Regions from separate parts of the Homo sapiens genome. Here region 2 is linked to region 1. Evidence: fine-mapped expression QTL. A gene starts in region 1. The other region holds a variant in brackets. All regions are shown on one strand. Distances are from middle to middle.

Evidence for each region. PIP is the estimated chance that this variant, and not a neighbour inherited with it, causes the effect. A credible set is the group of variants that fine-mapping cannot tell apart.
Region 2: its variant is the best candidate, but not a certain one, in a credible set for the expression of ST8SIA4 in blood mononuclear cells (TOPMed, PIP 0.70).

Annotation. Positions count from the first base shown.
Region 1 is chr5:100,899,885-100,905,266 of GRCh38, reverse strand. It overlaps ST8SIA4 (ST8 alpha-N-acetyl-neuraminide alpha-2,8-sialyltransferase 4), which reads left to right and starts at 1,985. Exons shown (of 5, transcript NM_005668.6): 1 at 1,985-2,424. The coding sequence starts at 2,312. It overlaps LOC107986437 (a long non-coding RNA gene), which reads right to left and starts at 1,859. Exons shown (of 2, transcript XR_001742825.3): 1 at 1-1,859. RefSeq lists enhancers at 583-822, 1,603-1,842, 2,328-2,897, 4,035-4,536, 4,643-4,862.
Region 2 is chr5:100,631,480-100,636,861 of GRCh38, reverse strand. No RefSeq gene overlaps it. Among named protein-coding and RNA genes, the nearest start is that of FAM174A, 99 kb to the right of the region's middle. The variant G/A (reference allele first, on the strand shown) is at 2,227.

The DNA.
Region 1 (5,382 bases):
GTAAATTATTATTTTTAAAAGATGCCCCCTTTGAGTGAGTAGGATTTGTGTCTGACTAGATGCTAAGTTTTATTCATCTTTGTGTTCCCATCTCCGCACACATTGCCTGCCCCATAACCATTGCTTAAGAAATAATGAGTTTAATGAAACGATGCATATTACTCTATCCCTGACAGAGAGTGATGTTTTACCTATAATCTAAAATATAGTTGTCTACTGTTTAAAAATCAAAGTTTATCCTTGAGAATTTAGCATCCTAACCATGCATCCCTCTCCCACCCGACCCCTGCCCTCAGCCCCGGATCCCTTTTAACTTAAATAAGAAGCTGTTTTATTCTGGCAGTTTTTGCCAGAAGAAAAGTGAGTCTAACAGAAGTCAATCTAACAGAAATGCATTAATGCAGGCTGGATTTGCCTAGACATCAATAAACTCGAAAGGCTCCCTGTGGGCCACTTGTAGTGTCAATAAACGTTCGTAATTACTTGCTCCTTGGAGCATTTTTATACCCGACCCCGTTCGCTGTGCTGCAAAGAGGAAATTCAAGATCTCGGAAGTTCTTAACTTCTTAAACTCTAGAGGAAGTATGGTAAACACTGGCGGGAACCTTGGGTTTTTAAGCAAAGATGCTGGCTGTTTTCGTTGCTATTTTAAGCTGTCAGGCGACAAGCAACTCAGAATTCCCCTTCTTACTTCCGGCGGGAGGGAAGATTGGAATTGGGCCTCATCATTTCTGAGCGTGAAAAACCGCTGAAGCTACTGTTCAACCTGAAGGAACACGGAATTCAACTGGAGAGAAACCCTGGCGACCAGGGAGCTGGGGACCGGCGCATATAGATGAGGGAAATCCTGGCTTCCAGACACTGTCTCATGCTAGAGGTGCCTCCCGACCTACCAGCCAACAGTAAAGACCGGAACCAAGGCGTGGTACTAGCAGAGTAGCAAGCATCTCTCCCAATGAGGGCAACGACTGGAGGATGGTGGAGAGGTACTCAGAGTGAACAATCGAACACAGAACTCTTGAAAAGTGTCCCTGCCACCCAATACAAGTACGAAAAATGGTGGGACGGAGGAGAGGTGACAATCAGAGGCTATATATATAATTGAGACTTTTAGAGAGGACTTTGCTCTTCCTTCCTCCCCTCCCTTTTCTTTCCTTTCTTTCTTTCCTTCCTTCCTTGGTATCCGAATGTGTGTGGGTGTACTTGCGTTTAAAAGAGAGGTCCATGGTAGCTGCTTTTTTTTCAGAACTCTGTTTCTCCGCAATGAAGTTTAAGTGGGATTGGAGTTTCCTTGACTTCTGCGTGAGGAGTTTCCAAATGGCAATGAAAGGGAGGCGCATAAATATCCATAAAGTTCCTAATGACACCTCTATCATCACTTGTTTCCTGCAGAATCCTGAGCCAGGGTCGTCGTCCACCACCCATGCAGAGTGGGCCCATCGGCTAACAGGTTCATGTGTGTATTTGCACTTTCCAGATTGAGTAATAAAAGTCTTCTTCCTTCCACCGCCGTCCCCACCCCCGCACCCCGTTTCACTCCACCTTGGAGGGCGTGTTTTTGCGTGTGAGGGTGTGTGTTTAGCAAAAGCGATTGAAAGAAGGTACTCTTCTTGCAATCCACCCCTAGCTCTACCTGAAGCATTCCTCTGGCGGGACGCTTTTGTAATCTGTCCCCAGGCGAGGTGCCCTCTCACCTAGATGCGGATAGACTATCTTGGAGCTCCCAGGTCCAGAGAGCTGATGCTTTGATGTCCCAGGAGAGTGTGTGTGATTCTGCGTGTACGTGTGTGTGCATATGTATGTATGTGTGTATGTATGTATATGTGTATGTGCGCGAGCTCGCAGGCGCGTAGCACTGTGAGCTTCCTCTCCCGGCACAGAGCAGGCAGAGCCGGGGACGTTACTCTCCAAGCAGCCTCCGCCCCCTCAGCCTGGTGATTGGCTTTGCGCAGCGTTTATCTCCTAGCAAGAGGGAAGGGCCAGTGACGCCCCCGAACCCAGCTGCAGAAGCTGCCGCCACCTCCAATGCACAAGGTGTCTCATCTGAAAAGAAACCTGAGCCCCAGGGAGGCGGCGCGGAGCGACCCTGGCAGAGCTGGCGCAAACAGGGCGAGAGGTCGCTGGGCAGCGTTCGAGGACCAGAGGGAGCTCGGCCACAGAAGACCCCAGTGATCTGATCCCGGGATCCCGGCTCCAAGCTCTCCTCGCATTTTACAGATTTCACCCCCGCGACTATCTCCCCAAAACGGAGCCTTTATATCAAGAGAAGGTGCGGGAGCTGGGGCAACCAGGACTTTCTCGGGCACCCAAGATGCGCTCCATTAGGAAGAGGTGGACGATCTGCACAATAAGTCTGCTCCTGATCTTTTATAAGACAAAAGAAATAGCAAGAACTGAGGAGCACCAGGAGACGCAACTCATCGGGTAAATGCAAAGCTTCATTTCAGGATATGACAAAAAGTCAAGCCATAAATGAAATGTGAATATAGAGGGTAGAGTGATGGTTAGGATAGCATGTGTGTTTGTTTGAGCTTGCGCGTGGTTAGTGTCATGAATTAAATAACAAAGGCTGTTGTTGAGATGTGCGTGCTTCTCTAAGCTGTTCCCAGTATGAGTTCAACTTGCTCTGTGTGGTTGTGGTGACAGTTGTGTTGGCCCTGGGTGCTCTCTCGCCAAAGGAGAAGTCACTGCAGAAGTGTCAACAAAGAACGTGTGTCCTTGTCCTTTTAATCTGTGGGCAGAACTCAAGAGAAATGTCTTTATTCACCAAACGGTTGCCTGTTTTCAATGTCCTATCACCTAAGGAGATACTGGAGATAGATGGTTTCTCGAAGGGCTGAAGTTAAAGCTTAGAAAGCAGGAAATAGGTATACTCTGTTTCTCTACTTTTTTTTTTTCTATTTGACGTTGGATAGATTAATGTGTTATAATTTGAATTAGAAACTCCAGTACCACTAAGGATACTTCCTTATTTGTTCTTCTACGGCTAAAACGCATGGGCGTCATGGTTACAGTTTTAGAAAGAAACTGGGTACTGTAGCTTCACACAGACTATATTTCTGCTATTTTTTTTAGTTTGTCTAGATGAGTTCAGACTCTCCCCCGCCCCACTAAGTTCTCTAAATATCACACTTCCTTCCACCCGCTGGCCTCTGTGTCTTTGAAGTTTACCCAGGAGGTGGTGCAACTTTGTGTTGCTGACATAGCTTGGAAGGCTTTTTCTGAGGATGTGAACCTGATTGTCAACTCTATTCAAAGTCCTGTTTCGGAAATCCTCCCTGTTCCGGTTTGGAGGCGTCCTCTATCAGAAACTACACACCAGCAGAGATGCCTGCCCAGTTTATATTTTTCTCTGACATTGATTAAAACAAAGAAAACAGCCCTTGCGTGTGTGTGTATGTGTGTGTGAGAGAGAGAGAGATGGGACTGCTAACACACACACATGCTCTTAAACTTCCTGCACTCCATTTCTTAATATTCCTGCTCCCTAGGTAATAAGCATTTATTTAAGCGAGCAAGATGCAGGTTGATCCTTACAGAAGGACTTGCTATTCTGTAGAAAACCAGGAAAACAGTAGCACAGTCAAAGCGGACTGGAAGAGAATGAAAAAGCTAGCAAGGAATGGGCTGGAATGGTCGTCATGCATCAACGAATCTATACATGGTCTATTCTGAGGGGGTAAAAAAGACCGGTATGAGGTCGTTTACACAAGACTGGGTGGCTTGAAAATCCAATCTAGCTCAGTTGTTAGAAAAGCAGGACTTTGGGCAGGGGCGTGGGCATCCCTTGCAGACCTGTGCTTGCCAGGCAGACAAAGGGGTCTTTAGAAAGGTGATGAATGGGCGCATGGGGCTCCGATGAGAGGCAGAGGCTAGAGCTTGAGGGTCGAGGCTCTTTGTTCCCTCCCGGGCCGTGGGCTAGGAGGATAAGCCTGATCCCAGACAAAGCGGCCAAGGCTCACTAGGACTCCGAGGGTTCGGGCCCTTGGCTGGGACCCTGGAGAGCAGGAGTGGGCGGAGCGAGTGAGAAGAGGGTCGCCAGATACTGCCGAGGTGTCCATCTCCGAGCCTCCCTAAACCGTGGCCAGGAAAAGGAGCGCACCTCGAGTCCCTGCGGGGAAGCGGAGCCGGGACACTCCGCATTGCACGGGTGTCATTTCTCCTGTGGCCCTTTCCTGGACGTTGCCGGCTGGTGGGCGCAGCCCTAGGCGTTAAGGAAGAGGAGGCGGGCACTGGCGCGGCGGTTGAGCTAGTCGGGCTGGGCTTTTGCCCGCATCCTTTTCAAGCTGAAGCAGTTTCCTCCCAGCTTGACTGAGAAGGCGTTGGGGCAGGCGCTTGAGTAAACCAAACAGGAAGAGAGGCGCGCACCGGGGTTATCCCCTGCTGCCAGAGCGCCGGCGGCGAGGGGGAAAGAATGAGTGAGAAGATAGGGGGAAACCTTTATTGCAGGACTCAGGCTCTTTTGGTCCCTCCCCTCCTTCCACCCCCACCCCACCCCCACCCCCCACCCAAAGTCACTTTCAAAGCTCAGTCGGCAACTGGCTCCTCCTTCTTAATCAAAACCCGCAATTACAGTGGGGCAAGGCAGAGGGCTGGCCGCGAACGTCGCGCTTACACCCGTGCCCTGTAGCGTCCTGACTGCCTTGGTCTCCTGAGAGACCAAGACTGTGCAAGGAGTTGGAGCTGCCAGGAACAATGCGAGGGCAGCTAGGCTCCCTGAGCACTTTCCTTTTTCTCCAGGATGAAAGGTTCGTGGAAAAGCTTGTGACCCGAGCTCATTATTTCGTTTCAACTCCCAAACAGCGCTTCTGGTGGAGGAGTTGACTCATAAAACCATCAAATCATCTCATTGACTGTCTTTCTACCCAAGCCACGTGGAGAGGCCAGTTTTGAGTTTTGAGTAAACTGGAATGGAGGTTCGGCTCCAGATCCCGGTCCAGTATTCAAGTGAGGTAACCAAGGCAGTCTCTGGCCTTTGGGGGGCACTGCGAGCCTTGTGGCTTGGCAGCAGTTTCAAAGAAGGGCCTTCCATAGTCCTTGAATCTTGCATCACTACCCCAGATTCATATTTAGCTTTTCTGCTACCAATTTTGCAATACAAGGCAGTTCCTTTATCCCTTCGACCCTTCCCCCCCGCAAATGGGGGTCCCATCTATAGTTACTCTTACAGTATGCCACAATACTGAGCAGTCATACCACGCAGATGGAAAAATAGAAAACCAGCACAACCTTCTCACCAACCATCCACATTCTCATATCTCCAAAGGAATACCTGCGACATGTTTTTTTAAATACATAAGGAATTGTTCCAGCATAGGTCAAGTAATGATTATTGAACATCTAAAATTCATATTTCCTTCCATAAAAGCCTATTAGTTAATA
Region 2 (5,382 bases), 270 kb after region 1:
CCTGAATCTCTATAACTGGATGAAATAAATTTAATATTGAGAAGTGTAAAGAAAATTCTTAATTTATTATCTATATTAAATGTGAATGTTTAAAGTATGAAAATTGCTCTGACTTTTAAGAAGTCAGGTGGTGAAACAAAAGCACATGTATTCACCCAGAGAGAGAGGAAGCAAATAGTTCAATCAGAGGGCAACAAGAGTACATATGATTTCTCCTTTATAATATATTCAGAAACATTGTTTATTCAATTAATTATTTTTTTAGAGAGAGGGTCTCACTGAATGATCATGGCTCATTGCAGCCTCGAACATCTAGGCTCAAGTGATCCTCTCACCTCAGCCTCCTGAGTAGCTGGCACTGCAGAAAAATATTGCTTTTTAAACAGAAGAAGAGTCTAAAGGCAGAATCGAATACTGAGGATCATTTACTGCTCGGTTAATAGTGAACAGGGAAAGGATTACTGTTGTTGAGAATACTATTTACATAGAGGCTGAAGATCCAATCCAGTCAAATAAAAAGAGACTAGTATATATAAAAAGATGGCCAGGTGCAGTGGCTCACGCCTGTAATCCCAGCACTTTAGGAGGCCGAGGTGGGCGGACCACAAGGTCAGGAGTTTGAGACCAGCCTGGCCAACATGGCGAAACCTCATCTCTACTAAAAATACAAAAATTAGCTGGGCGTAGTGGCAGGCGCCTGTAATCCCAGCTACTCGGGAGGCTGAGGCAGGAGAATCGCTTGAACCCAGGAGGTGGAGGTTGCAGTGAGCCGAGATAGAGTCATTGCACTCCAGCCTGGGCCACAAGAGCAAGACTCCATCTCAAAAAAATAAGAAAAAAAAAAAAAAAGATGACCTTTAAAAACATAATGGACTTTTATCTCTAACCAATTAAGGTAAACTTATTTGCCTGGCTTTCAAGGTTGTGGCCTAAATTTGTACAAGTCTTCCCATATACCTACCCTGGTCTTCAGTTAAATCAATTGCCATTGCTTCACACATTCAATCTTATGCTACTAAGTCTTCGTTTTTCCTTTCAATCTAAGCACTACAATCTGTGCTGTCAAAATTCTATTCATTTTTCAAGCTCCGTTTAAAAAATGTCACCTCTATTTTATGAAGATATTCTTATTTTTTGATTCCTTTAATTTGCTAAAAGCTAAAATGTTTATCCTCCTCCTTTTCACTTCTGTTCCATTAAGATGAGGATAGGAGTGGTAAAGTGAATGAAGAAGATTCTTAGGAAAAGATCTGAAGTTAGGTGATTTTTCTTTAAGATTTATGAACATTCAAGTTTTCATGTGATTTTCTTTTCAAGTTACTTTATTATTGTACAATTTGTTGAGTATTTATTTTGAGCCAAACACTGTGTTAGAACCTGGAATTGAAAAACTAGATTAAAACTAAGTACCTACCCTTAGAAATTCCATAACTAATGGGCAAGGATTTGAATATTGCTAGACAACAAAACAGAGAAAAGGGCCAAAGAGAAGCAAGCCATTAGCACATCACATAAAATTTTCATAAGTTTCTTCATGTCTAATTTACTCAAGATTCAGATTGTTGAGTTCAGTAAAGATTATTTTGTCATATTATTCATCACTGAAGATACACATTAGTCAGCTAGAAATAAAAACAAACACACACCAGAAACAAACAAAAAAAATATAAATCTTATTTATTGCCCTGGGCATGTTTGAGTTTTCTTCTCAGTTTCATGTTTGGCAGATTTTCACATTTCATAGCTCAGTTAGCCCCTGTGAGTCAGATGAAACGTTTCAAAAAACTATTCTTGACTACTTATTTGCATATGTATATATGTTATAAGCTTGAAATTTTAAGATTAAGTTTTTGACCACAATGTTAAAGTCTCATGATAGAGTATGAATATTTTTAGCAACTTTCTCTATAATTCAATCTCTAAAAGTATTTTCTTATGCTGAGCCCAAAAAAATGTTTAAACGTGTAAAAAAGTAGACAAATATAAACTTAGAAAGAACAAAAGATAATAGAGCCTCATAAATTATTTTGAAAGTTACATACAAGGAAATATTTGCTCCTTTTCTCATGAAGATAACATATAAAAACTTAAGTTGGAATTATTATGGGAATTATGAAGCCTCATCATTGTGGCCTTGAAATAATGACTTCATTTTCTGAATAAAGACTGACCAACTGTGTGACCTCGAATTAGCAATTAATCTCTCTGTGCTATCAATTATTCATC[G/A]TTAATATTGAGCTGAATATTCCTTCCTATCAAACATTTTTAATGGTGTATTATGCCCTTTAAAAGGAAAGTATTTTGGAAAATTCAACAAATATTGACATATTTTTCAACTATCAGTAATTAGGTGAAAACAAAGATAAACTAAAACTATAATTGTTGCAAAGGAAAATATGCATCTGTGAAAAAATCATTTTCCCCTTCGATAACTTACTCCAGAAATCTCAGAATATAAACAATTAAAATATAAAATGGATTTTCTTATGGTAAGAATACTGATAAAATGTTTATCAGCCGTTTTGCGTGTCCATGCTCTACAAGTGGCCTTAGCACAGTGGCTGACACAGAGAGAACTCTGGACTCTCATATACCTGAATTTCAGAAGCCTTGTATTATGGTCTTCTCTAAGAGTTTGAGAATATAATAGACACTCATGAAGATTCTTTCCTAAAAGAGGAAAGCATTTAATTAATTGATTCATTGGTTGGTTATAAATGCCCTGCAGTCAAATGACCAGGAAACAGGAGGCAGAGACTTTGGAACTGTTCTCCAAGCCAATTCTGTTCAAAGACAATCTGTATTGATAACTCTGCAGGCATAATCCTTTGAGAATCCGGGTGGCAGGCCCTGTGAAAAGCATAGTTGCTCAGCATCCCAAGTCATGAAAAAAATTTGTTTAACTCTATGAATTTCTTCAGAGTTCCTGGGTCAGAAAAAGTTACTGCAGTAGATTTGCTTATTGTACTAACCAGAAACAGTCTTAGCAGGAAAACAAGACCTGGAAGGAAGGTTTTAAAAAAAGGTTGCTAGAGGACATAGATAGATAAATAGTAGAGAGATGTTACTAATCTCCATACTCTAATTTAAAAATATAACAAGGTAGGGATAGTATTTACATAATATGGCTTTTTAATTGAATGATAACATATGACAATGGTGGTAAATCTTATGATAGGAATTACATGATAGCTATAAATATCACCTAAAAGGATTGTACTGAAATGGCAATTTTAATCAGTACAATCTAGCTAGTCAATTTAAAGACTTACCAAAATACTCACATTTTAAAAACCATTAGAAAGTCCAATTTTATAAAACTGTCTTATTGCTTGATTCTTGGAATTCATGTAAAGATGAGACAATTAATGGATAGCTAATTCAAATAAACATATATGCCTCTCTTATCTCTTCATTAATATGCAGTTTGGTCAAAAAATGTAGGTTTTTTCAATTCTATCTACCAAACATAAAGTTATACATTGAATGCAAGGGTTTTCCTAATATAATATGAAAAATAAATTTAAACATATAAATAATATATAATAATAAGCTGACTTAGTGCTCATATTTCTGGCAACCTCAAATTTTCAAAATACATCTGTATAGCTACAGACCAGTAAGCAAGATTCTGATGGGCAAACAGGTTGAAGAACATGGCAAGATTCATAGAAGAAAAAAGACTAACCTCATTTTCTGGACTACAGTCTAATGAATAGGACTGTCTTATTTTATAAATAATCTGGTGTATGTGCTGTTTAACAAGTCTTCCTCAGATACAATAGCAGCATGTTGGAAACTAAAGGTAGAATGACAAAATTTGAAGAGGAGAGGTCATTCAGAGAGTTAATAGAAACCTATTGTGAAAAGTAATATCTGATATCAACACATAGTAGAGTTATAAATTATGAGAAAATACAGTTATTTAAGAAAACTGCAGAAAAACACAAATTATTACAATGGATCCCCTGTCCTCATGTCTTTAACAGGAAACTCCCCAGTGTGGTGTTTCATATATTCTAGAAAAGACAGAGTTTAAATGAACTTCTCTTTTGTGTCGCCAACTCAATTTGGTCCTGTTTTGTCCATTCCCATTGTCAATAACTTCATTCAGTCCACTTTCATCTCTCTCCTTATTATAATGACTTTCAAATGCTTTTTCTGTAGCTTTTTCCTAATTTTGCCTCGTCTAAACTAGTTTCTGACTTACAACCTAGGTTACTTTTATATAAATAAGTTTGATGATCTCACCAACCTATTTAAAATTCATTCAAGAGTACTCAGTAAACCCAATATAATGTTATTTCTCTGAGAGTATTCTTTACTATACACTTCACAAACTTCTACCACTACTGTCCATCCTAACTCTTTTTCAGTTCTGCAAAAATATGTCATCTTATAGGCCTCCCATGCTTCACATATGCTGGACTCCGCTCCAGCAACACTCCCTGTCTTTGTGTAGCTAACTCTTAGTTTTACATTTATTCCAGATATAAAGACAGTGACCTCCATTCCTGGGCGTTTGTTTCTGTTATGTGCTTCCATAGCAGCTATCAAGGCAGTCATCCCATTGTATTTATTTGTTTAATTAACTATCATTTTCTTCACTAAAATATGAGTTTTTCAAAACTAGGGACTAAGAAAGCAGTGTCTGAATCCTTTTCAGTACTCCACTGTGTTACATTTTCAGCATGTTAAGTGGCATAAAAATATACAATTGCAATCATTGAATGGATACAGAAATTAATAAATGTAGTATATAAAAATCTAAGTAGTCATTAAATATAATTTTAATCAATGAATATTTAATATATTTTTCAGCACCCAATGAATATTTATATAAATGGTATGTATTATTTCAAAAAGGAAAGCTCAACAAATTCTGGTAAGAAAATATTACATGAGCTACATTTCATGACAAAAATACCATAAAACTATGAACAAAAATTAACCAGAAATAATCTAACATTTAGAAAGTTTTACATATGATTTTTTTAAATCTCCTGAGCTAAAGAGGTAATGATAACATAGAAAAAGATGTGTGTAGTTGATGTTAGAGGTCTGGAAGCTGAAAGGCTGAATTTGTACTCATCTTTTCATTATTAGATTTTTTCTTTTCTGAGGGACAGAACCTAAATAGTTTGTTGAGGTCATTAAAGCTTTGATTTTAAAAGGGAGACAATGGACCAACCTGCTCTTCATATCTATAAGACCCAGGGCAAGAGCACAGATGGAAGTTGCTGGCCTCCCACCATTACCTTCCCACTCTCCAGCGTCAACATCACTCACAGTCCCCACCTCCGTAAGCAGGTTCAGTGCTGCTGTGGCAGGGGATATCTGGACTCAAACATCCAGAATGTGGTTAAAAAAGGATGCAGGAAT